Linked DNA regions of Homo sapiens: region 2 is linked to region 1. The links come from fine-mapping of genetic effects on gene expression. Tissue or cell type: stomach. Region 1 holds a variant in brackets; the other region holds the start of a gene. All regions are shown on one strand. Distances are between the middles of the regions.

The links. PIP is the estimated chance that this variant, and not a neighbour inherited with it, causes the effect.
Region 2: LINC03060 starts here. The variant in region 1 is the best candidate, but not a certain one, in a credible set for the expression of LINC03060 in stomach (GTEx, PIP 0.64).

What each region holds. Positions count from the first base shown.
Region 1 is chr7:134,372,299-134,377,924 of GRCh38, reverse strand. All of the region lies in intron 1 of LOC105375518 (a long non-coding RNA gene), which reads right to left. It overlaps LOC105375517 (a long non-coding RNA gene), which reads left to right and starts at 3,574. Exons shown (of 4, transcript XR_928000.4): 1 at 3,574-3,991; 2 at 4,785-4,863. The variant G/A (reference allele first, on the strand shown) is at 3,472.
Region 2 is chr7:134,429,251-134,434,876 of GRCh38, reverse strand. LINC03060 (long intergenic non-protein coding RNA 3060) reads left to right here and starts at 2,457. Exons shown (of 3, transcript NR_183392.1): 1 at 2,457-2,563.

The DNA.
Region 1 (5,626 bases):
CTTTCAAGGAAGATAAAACTAGGGAAACAGTTCAGATCGGATGGAATTGGATCTAGCGTGAGTGAGAGGGATGTTGGGAATAACATACCCAAGGAAATCTGGTGTTTCAGACTTGAAAAAGCTGCACTATATGGGAAGTTTCTCAGACAAGTCCTAGATAGGCAGGCACTGCTCTGGGTCCTCTTACTGACAAACTCTGGAGTGCTGTAAGTTGTTTTGTGAATGGATGTCATATGATGTGGTGGATTTCCCAAATTTCTCAGTATTTTTTTCCTTTTTGGAACAGAAGGGCCATCAGGAAAAGTCACCCTCTTGTCCTGTGGGCTTCACACAAGTGAAAGAGCTTCTATAACCATTTTTTTCAGGCACAGCCTGAGAAAGATCCCTGAAAAGTATCATTTAGGTTCAATACTTATCAGCATCACATTTTACCAAAAGCTTTCAGTTACGCTGGAAATCTTTCTTTTAGGTTGTTAACACAAATATAAAATTATGTCTATTCTCTCACTGAGATTTGGGGAATTTCATTATTTATACTTCTCTGACAGTCCAAGGGAAACATTGCTCAGATATGAGTGTGTAAATGGGAAAGATGGGGGGATAACAGGGGGATACCTCTACCCCCCAACCACCACATTTCTACCTCTGCCCTCTTTTTGCTACTTTTACTAGCTCCTCCTCCCCAAGGATTGATTGATCAGACTACAGGACATTCATTAAGCCACAAAGTAGCAGAATTTAGGATACCTGCACCTGAGCCAGTAACCTGGACTCTACTGTCTCTCCTCATTCTTGGAGGGCTTAAACAACCATCAATAGAGTGAAAATCTGTGATAAAAGGGGTCAACCTTGATCACCTCTCACACTGCAAGTGGCTAGGATTGCCATACCTTCTACAGAACAGGAAACAGAGAACCCTAGAAACACACTACAAAAGGCATCAATTCTATATTTAAGGAAAGTCAATCTGCTAGATACATAGCAAGGTTCTCATATAGTGCCTGCCACTTAGATGCTCACTGAACAGTTTTTGAACAAATAGCTGAGTAGGATAATTTGGATTTATATCTGATTATTTTTTTCTCTCATAATCAAAATAAGCCTGATTTTTGAATCCTGGAAGCACTGCCAACTTTCTTTGTAGCCTCAGGCAAGTTTTCTAACCTCTCTGAGATTAGTTTTCTCATCTATAAAAAAGAGGCAATGATGATAATAATAATATCCCACAGTGTTGTTGGGGAGATCAAATGAGAAAATCATGCAAAAGCTCCTGATAAATAATCATGGTAATAATGTTAAGAAACCTTCATATCTCTCCCCACCCTATTTGCGTAGTTAGTGAACTTGACTGGAGCACTTTTTGATTCCTTGTTTCAAAGTTCCTAATAACAGCAGAGCACTAGAGTCATTAGAGCATATAGACATCCGGCAATTGTGAATTTCCCCAAGCCCTTTGTTACTAGAATTTTAGTTCTGCCACCAGCCATCTGGTAAACCAAGTCTGCTTCTCTCTCCCAGCTATGTTTTCCCATTTTCATTTGGTGAAAGAATCAGGAACTGGACTATTTTTTTTATTATTGTTATTATTATTACTATTATTATTGAGTAGGCAATACATTGGCTCAAATATCAAAATGAATAAAAAGCCATGCATTGAACAGGCACACTCTCATCTCTGACATTGCTCACCCCACTTCTCAGCTTTCAACCCTTACTGGTAATCATTTTTATTATTTTCTCCTATATTCAGTTTTTTTCCTTACCATATACAAAAGGTAGCATACGGTTTATAGTGGTCTACATCTTACTTTATCATCTAGCAATATAAACTAGAGCTCTTTCTGTATTAGAACATACAGGGGTTTGGGATGTGTTTTTTGTAACAACTGCATGGGATTCTGCTGTGTGGATGTACCATGGTTTATTTAACAAATACCCTATTGTAAACACTCAGGCTCTTTCCAGTCTCCCACTATTACAAACAATACTGCAATAAATAATTTTGTACTTAAGTATCTCATGTGTGTGCAGATAATCAGGAAAAATAAATTGTCAGAAGTGGTTTTGCTGGCCCACAGGATAAATGCACTTATCATATTGATAGATATTGCCAACTTGGTCTTCATATGAATTCTACCATATTCTACTCCCAGCAGCGAAGTCTAAGAGCTTGAAACAAGCATGTTTAAAGCAATTTAACAGAAGACAAATGAGAAAAATTAATGAAAGTTAGCAGAACCAGGGGCAAGGAGCATTGATACATTGTAGGTTAAAATTGCATTACGTATTAGAAATGGAAAAGTTAGGTACTGGTTGTACTGAAGGAAAGGATATGAGATTTTTACAGCCCAAGCAGCCCTTACACTACAGTCTCTAACAACAACAGCAACTCACCTGTGTGTAGCGGGTCACACTACAAAGCCCTTTGTGTACATTAGCTCAGTTGGTCTTCACAACATCATGTGACGTATGTGAGAGAAACAGAATTAGTTGTCCTAGGTGAAACAGATGGATCCCCGCAGTGCTGGGACTTGAGCCAATCTTCTGACTCAAGATTCTGGGCTTTTTTTGGAAGAAAACCTAGGTGGAGGCAAAAGATTCCTACCACTCATCACAGTCCATCCTCCCCAGCCACCCGCATGCATCTCATTCATCCAGTCGCTCACTGTCATTCCCACTTTCCATGTCATTTTTGACCCCAACTGTCTTAAGGGTGGTGAAGCGGTTCTCTTGCCCTGCCTTCAGCCCACCTCTGATTTCAGTGCAGCTGTGCTGGGCCATTCTGATATATACTGGCTGGACACTCGCCCCATGCCTTCACTTTCTTGCTTAGGGGCAACTTCTGAAGTTCGTGGATCTTACTCAGTCTGGAAGTGTGGGAGGGGCAGTATTGAAGCTTATGTGGGCGATCTTCAACCAGTGGGGGACAGGAGTTAGAGGGTAAATGCCCAGCTGGCGAGGTAATCTAAGAAGCATCCTACAGGGTTCCTCAGAGAGGAGCCTGGTGAGACCAAGCCCCAGCTACCACAGCTGTAATGAGCTCCATGACATCCCATTGCTTTTCTTCCCTCTGCATCTCACTCTCTCTTCACTCCCTCACTCCTGCTTCTTGGGATTTCCTCCCAAAAGGCCATCTACACTGAAGTCCTCGTCCAGGCTCTGCTTCCAGGGCAATTCTAACCAAGGAAGGTGGGTTTATGTTTCAGGACATGTCAGTATGTATGGGTAAATAATCAGGTAAGTTTCTGGGGTGGGAGATTTGAGAAGGGGATGCAGAAGCTGTATGCCATCTTGAGGCAGTGGAGAAGCATGAATGGGAGGGAGTCAGGTAGATTGAACTATTCTTGGCTTTGCCTCTAAGCTGTCATGTGATCCTGGGCAAATCATTTACCCTCTCTGGACTTTAGTTTCCTCATAGTAGAATGGAGATAGTAAACAGTCCTTGCTGCCTCATAGGGCTGTTAAGAGTGT[G/A]TCCCATTCAACCTCTATCGGGTGCTCAAGGTTTTTTCTTTCCAACACCCACTCCACCCACTGTTTGGGGAGAATAACTGATTGGGTCAAAAGCTGGACTCTGACTTACAGGAAGAAGTTCTTAGGAGGAGGATTAAAAAGATTTAAATTCCTATTTTCTAAGTGGAGTAACTTCTCCTTAGTGTGGTCTTGTCTTAGAGCTATTCCTACCTTGGATTTTGGGGGGTTTTCTTTTTTAAGATGGCCTTATTCTCTTCTCCTCTTCATATGCCTGGTGCCATAAGATCTGGAGCTACCCCTCCTAGAAGGACCCTGCCTTTGGGAGCATTCAAGGACCAGGCCAGTGCCCTGTGTAGGAGATGCATCAAGTGTGTAGCTGGGACCAGATCTGCTTCAGTCCCTCAGAAGAAAGGTTCTGAGTGCTACTACTCAGATGGCCAAGACCATGGTGTGTGCCTTAGGGAAAGGGGACAGTGACACCCTTCCCCTGGCTCCAAACAAGGCCTACAGCTTGTGAAAGGTAAATTAATCTTGGGGTGCCAAATTCACTAAGCTAAAGGGTAAAGTGAAGCTGGGAACTGCTTAAGGCTAACCTGCCTCCCATTTTATTCAAAGTCACCCCTCTGCTCACTGGGATAAATGCTTGTGATTGCCTCCTTTGGAGAGGCTAATCAGAAACTCAAAAGAATGCAGCCATTTGTCTCTTATCTACCTATGACCTGGAAGCCCCTTCCCCGCTTAGAGTTGTCCTGCCTTTGCTTCGAGTTGTCTCGCCTTTTCCAGATGGAACCAGTGTTCAGCTTATATGTATTGATTGATGTCTCATGTCTCCCTAAAACGTATAAAACCAAACTGTGCTCTGAGCACCTTGGGCACATGTCGTCAGGACCTCCTGAGGCTGTGTCATGGGCACGCGTCCTCAACCTTGGCAAAATAAACTTTCTAAATTAAACAAGACTTGTCTCCAATTTTGGGGATTTACAAGCTCAGGGTACAAATGAAATAATTGACAGGTGTCCTGGCCCAGCCAGCTTGCCAGGGATAAAAACCACATAGGGGTGGAGTTGGGGAGTAAAGCAGCCAAGTGCCTGTATCACAGGCAGGCACCCCTGCAAGGGAGCCCCCAAGAGTGGTGGTGCCCTTGGGGACTTGGGATCCAATTCCTTCTCCTTCTCTAAGAAACACAACCACCAGTGAGAATCAATGACATAAAGTGTAACGGGGTCTGGAAAGTGGTGTAAATATTACTATGGGACAAAAACTAGGCGTCAAGAAGGAGCAGTGCCTCAGGCCCTTTCTCCTTTCTCTCCTAGGGCTCTGCTCAAGTCCCTGCACCAATGCAACCTGCCAAGGGAAAGCGCTCACCATGGTTCTGTCTTGACCTGCCAGTTTGTGAGTGATTCACACATTTTAATACCCAAATGTGCAGTCTCTGTTGCACATCGCTGTTACTTCTAGAGTGGGAAAGAACTGGGGATGTTTCAGCCTGAGGGCCAGGAACTGTGCATAACCCCAGCCCAGCTTCCCCAGCCTCCACTTACACTGAGCAGCCTGGCAAGGGACTATCAGACTTGTGGGCAACCAGGGCTAGCCTGGGGCTTCACTTGACCAAAGGATTTGGGGCAGTTTCTTCAAAATTTGAGTCTGCCCATGAGACTGTTGAATATGTAAATGTCATTCATCATGTCTATTATGGTGGGAAAAAAAAAGACATTGAGAATCATTGGCTTGGGAATGGCTCTTTGACATGGAGTCCCTCCTATTTGGCTGGGCTGAGCACCAGTGCCGTAGTACTGTTTGGGTACAACAGAGGCTACTCCAACAAGAAACTGAATGTGCAGCTGCCTTCAGTTGGAGAGTTTGTTTCTTTCTCAGTACCAGGTCCAAGGTGGGCTGTCCAGGTGGGAGGGGCAGCTCTGTTCCTTCCACCTTGTTGCTCCATGATTTCTTAGGGCATTGGGTGTGGATGGCTGAAGTTGAGTTGCTGCCATGCCCATATTCCAGCTTGCAGAAATTTAGGAATTTAGTAAATGTCATGAATTTGGGGAGACAACTTGCAGTCTGCAGTTCCACCCCAGCCAATTATTCCCCACTCCCTTCTATTTAGTCATTTCATGTAGGACCAATGCTACTGATTCAGGAATACCAGAAAGCC
Region 2 (5,626 bases), 57 kb before region 1:
ATTGCGTGGCCTTCTCTCCCAGTTACCGCAAATCAGCAGGTTGTGACTTTGCCAGGGCTCTCAGAGGCCATATGGTCCCAGCCTTCGTTGTACAGGAGGGATCAGGTGATTTTGTCAAGATCAGCCAGGACTAGAACTCTGCAGATCTTTATCCAATATTCTTTTTCTGTAGGTCACCTACCTCTTAGTCTGAACACATGATTTTGAAAACCCCAGGCCATCCACTCGTGGCCTAATCTGGACTAGAGACCAGATTGTTTTGTTATCCAGTGGGAGGCTGTATGGTTCAAACCGTGTTTCTGAAAAGGCCTGGATTTCCTCCCTGGGCTGAGGAGGCAAGGAAGGGGTGGTGTAGGTGTCCTCTCTCCCTGTCCTCACTGCCTCAACCAGAGCAAATTCCCTTTTATCTTCTTTGTTGAAATTGTATGTACGATTTCATTTGTGAAAAGGGTTCTGATTCTTTAAAAAACTTTAAGAAAACTTAAAATCCATTCCATGGAAAACCAAGTGGGATCTCTTGAACTCTCTCTGTCCATTTCCCAGATTTTAGTACCATTCAATAAGTATTCTTGGAGTCCTAGTTAAATGCCTAGTGTTGTGGCACATGCTAAGGGACATATAAAAAGAGATTATTTGGCTGGGCGCGGTGGCTCATGCCTGTAATCTCAGCATTTTGGGAGGACAAGGAGGGCAGATCACCTGAGGTCAGGAGTTTGAAACCAGCCTGGCCAACATGGTGAAGCCTAGTCTCTATTAAAAACACAAAATTAGCCAGGAGTGGTGGTGGGCACTTGTAATCCCAGCCACTCGGGAGGCTGAGGCAGGAGAATTGCTTGAACTCGGAAGGCGGAGATTGCCGTGAGCCAAGATTGCACCATTGCACTCCAGCCTGGGAGACAAGACTTTGTCTCAAAAATAAATAAATCAATGAAGTTGTTCTATTCCCCAAGGTGCAGATTTGCAAATTAGTCATGGGGTAGCTTCTTGGAAGAGGGTAGCATTTTCCCTTAGAAACAGCTTTATATATGATGTTTCATGTACGATGTTCCTACCATCCTATTTAGTTGCATCTTATTTCTTGGATGTCCCTGCAGAAGGGTTGCAAAAGGATAGTACGATAAGATCTTGGTCCTTACAACTTGTTATTTTTCTGCCACGAAAGTAGAGGAGATTTCTTTCTATGTGTGTATGGGTAGCTCTAGGTGAAAAACTTTGCATAATTTTCTGTACAGGGAGAAATACGGCAATAATTTCTTCTTCTTCTTCCTCTTTTTTTTTTTTTTTTTTTTTTGAGACAGGGTCTTGCTCTGTCACCCAGACTTGAGTGCAGTGATGCGATCATGGCTCACTGCAGCCTCAACTTCCCCAGCTCAAGCAATCCTCCCAGTAAGCTTCCCAAGTAGCTGGGACTACAAGTGTGCACAACCATACCTGGCTTTTTTTTTTCTTAATGTAGAGTCTCACAATGTGGCCCAGGCTGGGCAATAATTTCTTCATGGTGGGGTGAGGGAGGACAGAACAGGCCATTCTAGGTTAGATGTTTCTAAGTTGGGCACAGCATGTGTAAAGCCTGTTCGTTCCTGGGACTGTGTGGAGGGCAGATGATATTCCTACCAAAAAGAAAGCAGGTGAAAAGTTAGATAACATGAAGAGTTGAAGGAAGTACGTAGCTCCAACTACTGTGTGGTAGAATTCTTCCCTGACCCCAGCACCTGCCCTCTCGATGTATGTGATTCAAATGCTGCTTGGCTAGAATGGGATATACACCAGCTGGTCTCTGCCGGGTCCCTGGCCTGCCTTCCTCACCAGAACATCCCTGACAGTGCCTAGGCAGTCTGGGTGCGCTTGGTCCTACAGCAAGGACCGGTAGGCTTCCGAGCACCATGGCCAAGCAAAGGGGGCGAAGGAAGCCTCGGTCATCGAGTTCAGCCTGTGTGAGCAAAAGGAAGTCCCCATCCACACTCGCCACTCCCCGTCCTTAGCCTCCTGAGCTTATAGTGTGGTGTATGCTTCCCCCTTCTGGCCACAAATGGTCAACAATGATTTTTGGTAATCCCTGGTGGGAGGCCCTGCTTACTGCTGGGAAGTGGACCTTCCTAGTAACAGCGACGACAATGATACTGTTGCCAGAGCTATTGATGGAAGTGGTACAATCCAATAGGTGCAGTAAAAAGCCCTTTACATACACTGTCTCATTTAATCCTCAAAGCCAGGGGTCCCCAACTCCCGGGGCCACAGACCGGTACCAGTCCATGGCCTGTTAGGAACGGGGCCGCACAGCAGGAGGCGTGCGATGGGCGAGCGAGCAGAGCTTCATCTGTTTTTACAGCCACTCCCCTCTCGCATTACCGCCTGAGCTCCGCTTCCTGTCGGGTCAGCAGCGGCATTAGCGTCTCATAGGAGCATGAACCCTACTGTGAACTGCGCATGCGAGGGATCTAGGCTGCGCGCTCCTTATGAGAATCTAACGCCTGATGACCTATCACTGTCTCCCATCACTCCCAGATGGGACCGTCTAGTTGCAGGAAAACAAGCTCAGGGCTCCCACTGATTCTACATTATGGTGAGTTGTATAATTATCTCATTATGTATTAAAATGTAATAATAATATCCCGAAACCACCTCCCCACCGCCAGGTCTGTGGAAAAATTGTTTTCCACAAAACCAGTTCCCGGTGCCAAAAATGTTGGAGACTGCTGCTCAAAGCAATTTTGTAAGGGATGTATTATTATCCCCACTAAACAGAAGACAAACTAAGACACAGCAGTTAAATGACTTGTGCAAAATACGTGCTGATAAACGCAGCAGGGCGGGGGTTCACGCCTAGGTGTGTCAGGCTTCAAAGTCCGCGCTCTGGGCCACTGTGAACATTCCCGTTTCTGACGGGCTGTATTCTGGGTGGGGTATCCTCTGTCAACAGAGACATCTGTCAGACCATTCCTGCCCTTTTACTTCCATCAGTCCACATTCTGGCATCTTCCGTGTCATTTTTCCTCTTCACTTCTTGTGCTCCTCGGCAGATCTATGACCATCCCAGCCTCTTTCTTTTCTTCCTGATCTTTGGGCAATTCGCCTCCCTCCTGCTTGCTTCAAACATTCACTCTTGTGCAGCAGTTCTTTTCTTATTTATTTATTTTTTGAGATAGAGTCTCACTCTGTCGCCCAGCCTGGAGTGCAGTGGCGCTATATCGGCTCACTGCCACCTCCGCTTCCCAGGTTCAAGCGATTCTCTTGCCTCAGCCTTCTGAGTAGCTGGGATTATAGGCACCTGCCACCACACCCGGCTAATTTTTGTATTTTTAGTAGAGATGGGGTTTCGCCATGTTGGCCAGGCTGGTCTTGAACTCCTGACCTCAAGCCATCTGCCCGCCTTGGCCTCCCAAAGTGCTGGGATTACAGGTGTGAGCCACCGTGCATGGCCCATGCAGCAGTTCTTAAACTGGCACCCACAAGAGGTCTGGATTGAATCCGAGAGGTCTGTGAACATGGACATGGAAAATATTACATTCTATCGTGAATATAGAGAACAGAAGTGGGGCCTGTAACTTTGTCACAAATAGAAAGTCACAGCTCTTGCTATATCCCATTACTGTTACTAGGAATATCTCACGATGTCATCTATGTGCATCACTACTTTGAAATTACCAGAGTTATTAAACCTGTCACTAGACCTGTTATTTAGTCGTTAATAAAAAGCCTATATATTATCATATTACAAATTTGGTTTTTAAAAATATTGTGATAGCAGTCTTTCAAAACTAAAGAATTCCTTGGTAATCTTGTGTGTTTAATTTTATGTACTTAAAAACATTTTTCTTAGAAGGGCTCCAAAAGCTTCCGCAGCTTGCCAAGGGGATCCTGGCATGAAAAATGATGAAAAGAAAACACACTATCCTTGATTTTATGCCAGCTTTGCACCTCCTGACCCAGCCCATATAATGTAACAGTGACCCCCTGTAAGAGGGTTGCACTTCTCCAAATAGGAGGACCACAGGATTTCTCTTCCAAACAGGGACATTTGAGTATAGATAGAGTGATACTAGCATAACAAGAGTAAACTGGAACATATGGCCACCCCTCTCAAATATCAGGTATTCTGGAAACTGAAGAATTAGATAAGAAAATGCCAATGTAATTTACAAGAATCAACATAGAAACACCCTATCTGTAAATATGCTACTGATAAAACTAGATTGTCTCCTAAAATCCAACCAGAAAAAAATAACTAATATGAAATATATCAGCTTCAAATGAAATAATTATAGCATATAATAAAATAACGAATACTAGTGTATCACTTGCTATGGACAGACATTGTCTTACAACAGCCCTCTGAGGTTGGTTCTATTATTGTCCTCACTTTAAAAATGAGGAAAACGTGCCCCAATCACACAGCTAGAAAGAGGCTGAGCTGGTAGCAAATCCAAGCACACTGGCTGCTAACTGTGTGCTCTGACCCACTGTCTCTCGTGTGTCTTTGTTAGGAAATTTCATGATCCGACTGGAATCCAGGAAAATCACAGCTGAAATACAAAACATCAGCCCTTATCTCCAGCACTGTACATGGCAGAAACTGCTTTTATTCTAGATGTCTAGATCCAGGTATTTGAAATAAATTCTCCAGAAGGGGGGGAGAAATCTGGAAAGTTTCCATAGAACAGTTGCAATATCCCTTTATAACTCTTGAGTTGTAAGTGATGCTGTCTCCAGATATTAGCCTTTTTCTTTTAGCTACAACCTCTAGCTCCCACGTCAGAGGCAGCATGGGCCAGTGATTAAGAATCGGGTTTGCAGTTCCAATTCCAGGCACCTATTTAAGCTGGATGACCTTGACTAAGTCGCATAGCTTTTTGCACTGCAGTTTTCACATCTGTAAAATGGAGATAATGCTAATGGAATGCAAAATGCAAAATGGAAATAACGGTGGTGAGGAGTAAATGAGCTGGGCAAATACACAATAATCAGGAACGATTATTACTATCCTTTTACTCATCTCTATTCTGACAGTTTTGTCTCCAAACCCATCTCTCTTGTCTTATTCTGAGTTCTTCCATGCGTTCTGGCGTTTTCAACTTGACTTCTTCTTCAATATTTTTCATCATTTGGTAGCTATCTTTGGGTAATAATTATAACATTTGCTTATACAGCATTTGCCCCAGAACTCGTTTTGCTGAGGCAGCATAAACTGACAACTGGAAGTGAGAATGGGGACATGTGATCTCGTGATTATCACACATTCTCAATTTACCCACTCCATAATAGCATTTGCACCAGAGCTCTTCATTTGCATTTTGCTGAGCCAACGTGAATTTTTAGAAGTTCCGAGTGTCCAGAGAATGCTTCAGTTAGAATTGAGTTGACAAAAAATAGGATAGATCATTTATCACCTCTGTAGAAACAAGATGAATTTCTGTTTACAACTGAAATAAGAAATTACAAAAGATTGTTGGGCCTGACCACATGAAAAATTAAAATAGTGCAAAAGAAAAATAATTCAATACAAAAAGGGAAGCTACAGGCTGGGAGATGTTTACATCGATATAAAAAGGGGTTAATAAATATGCTTTATAAGACACATCTTTTAAGAACATCTTTGTTGCATCTCCGCTAAGAAGGAGGGTATCAC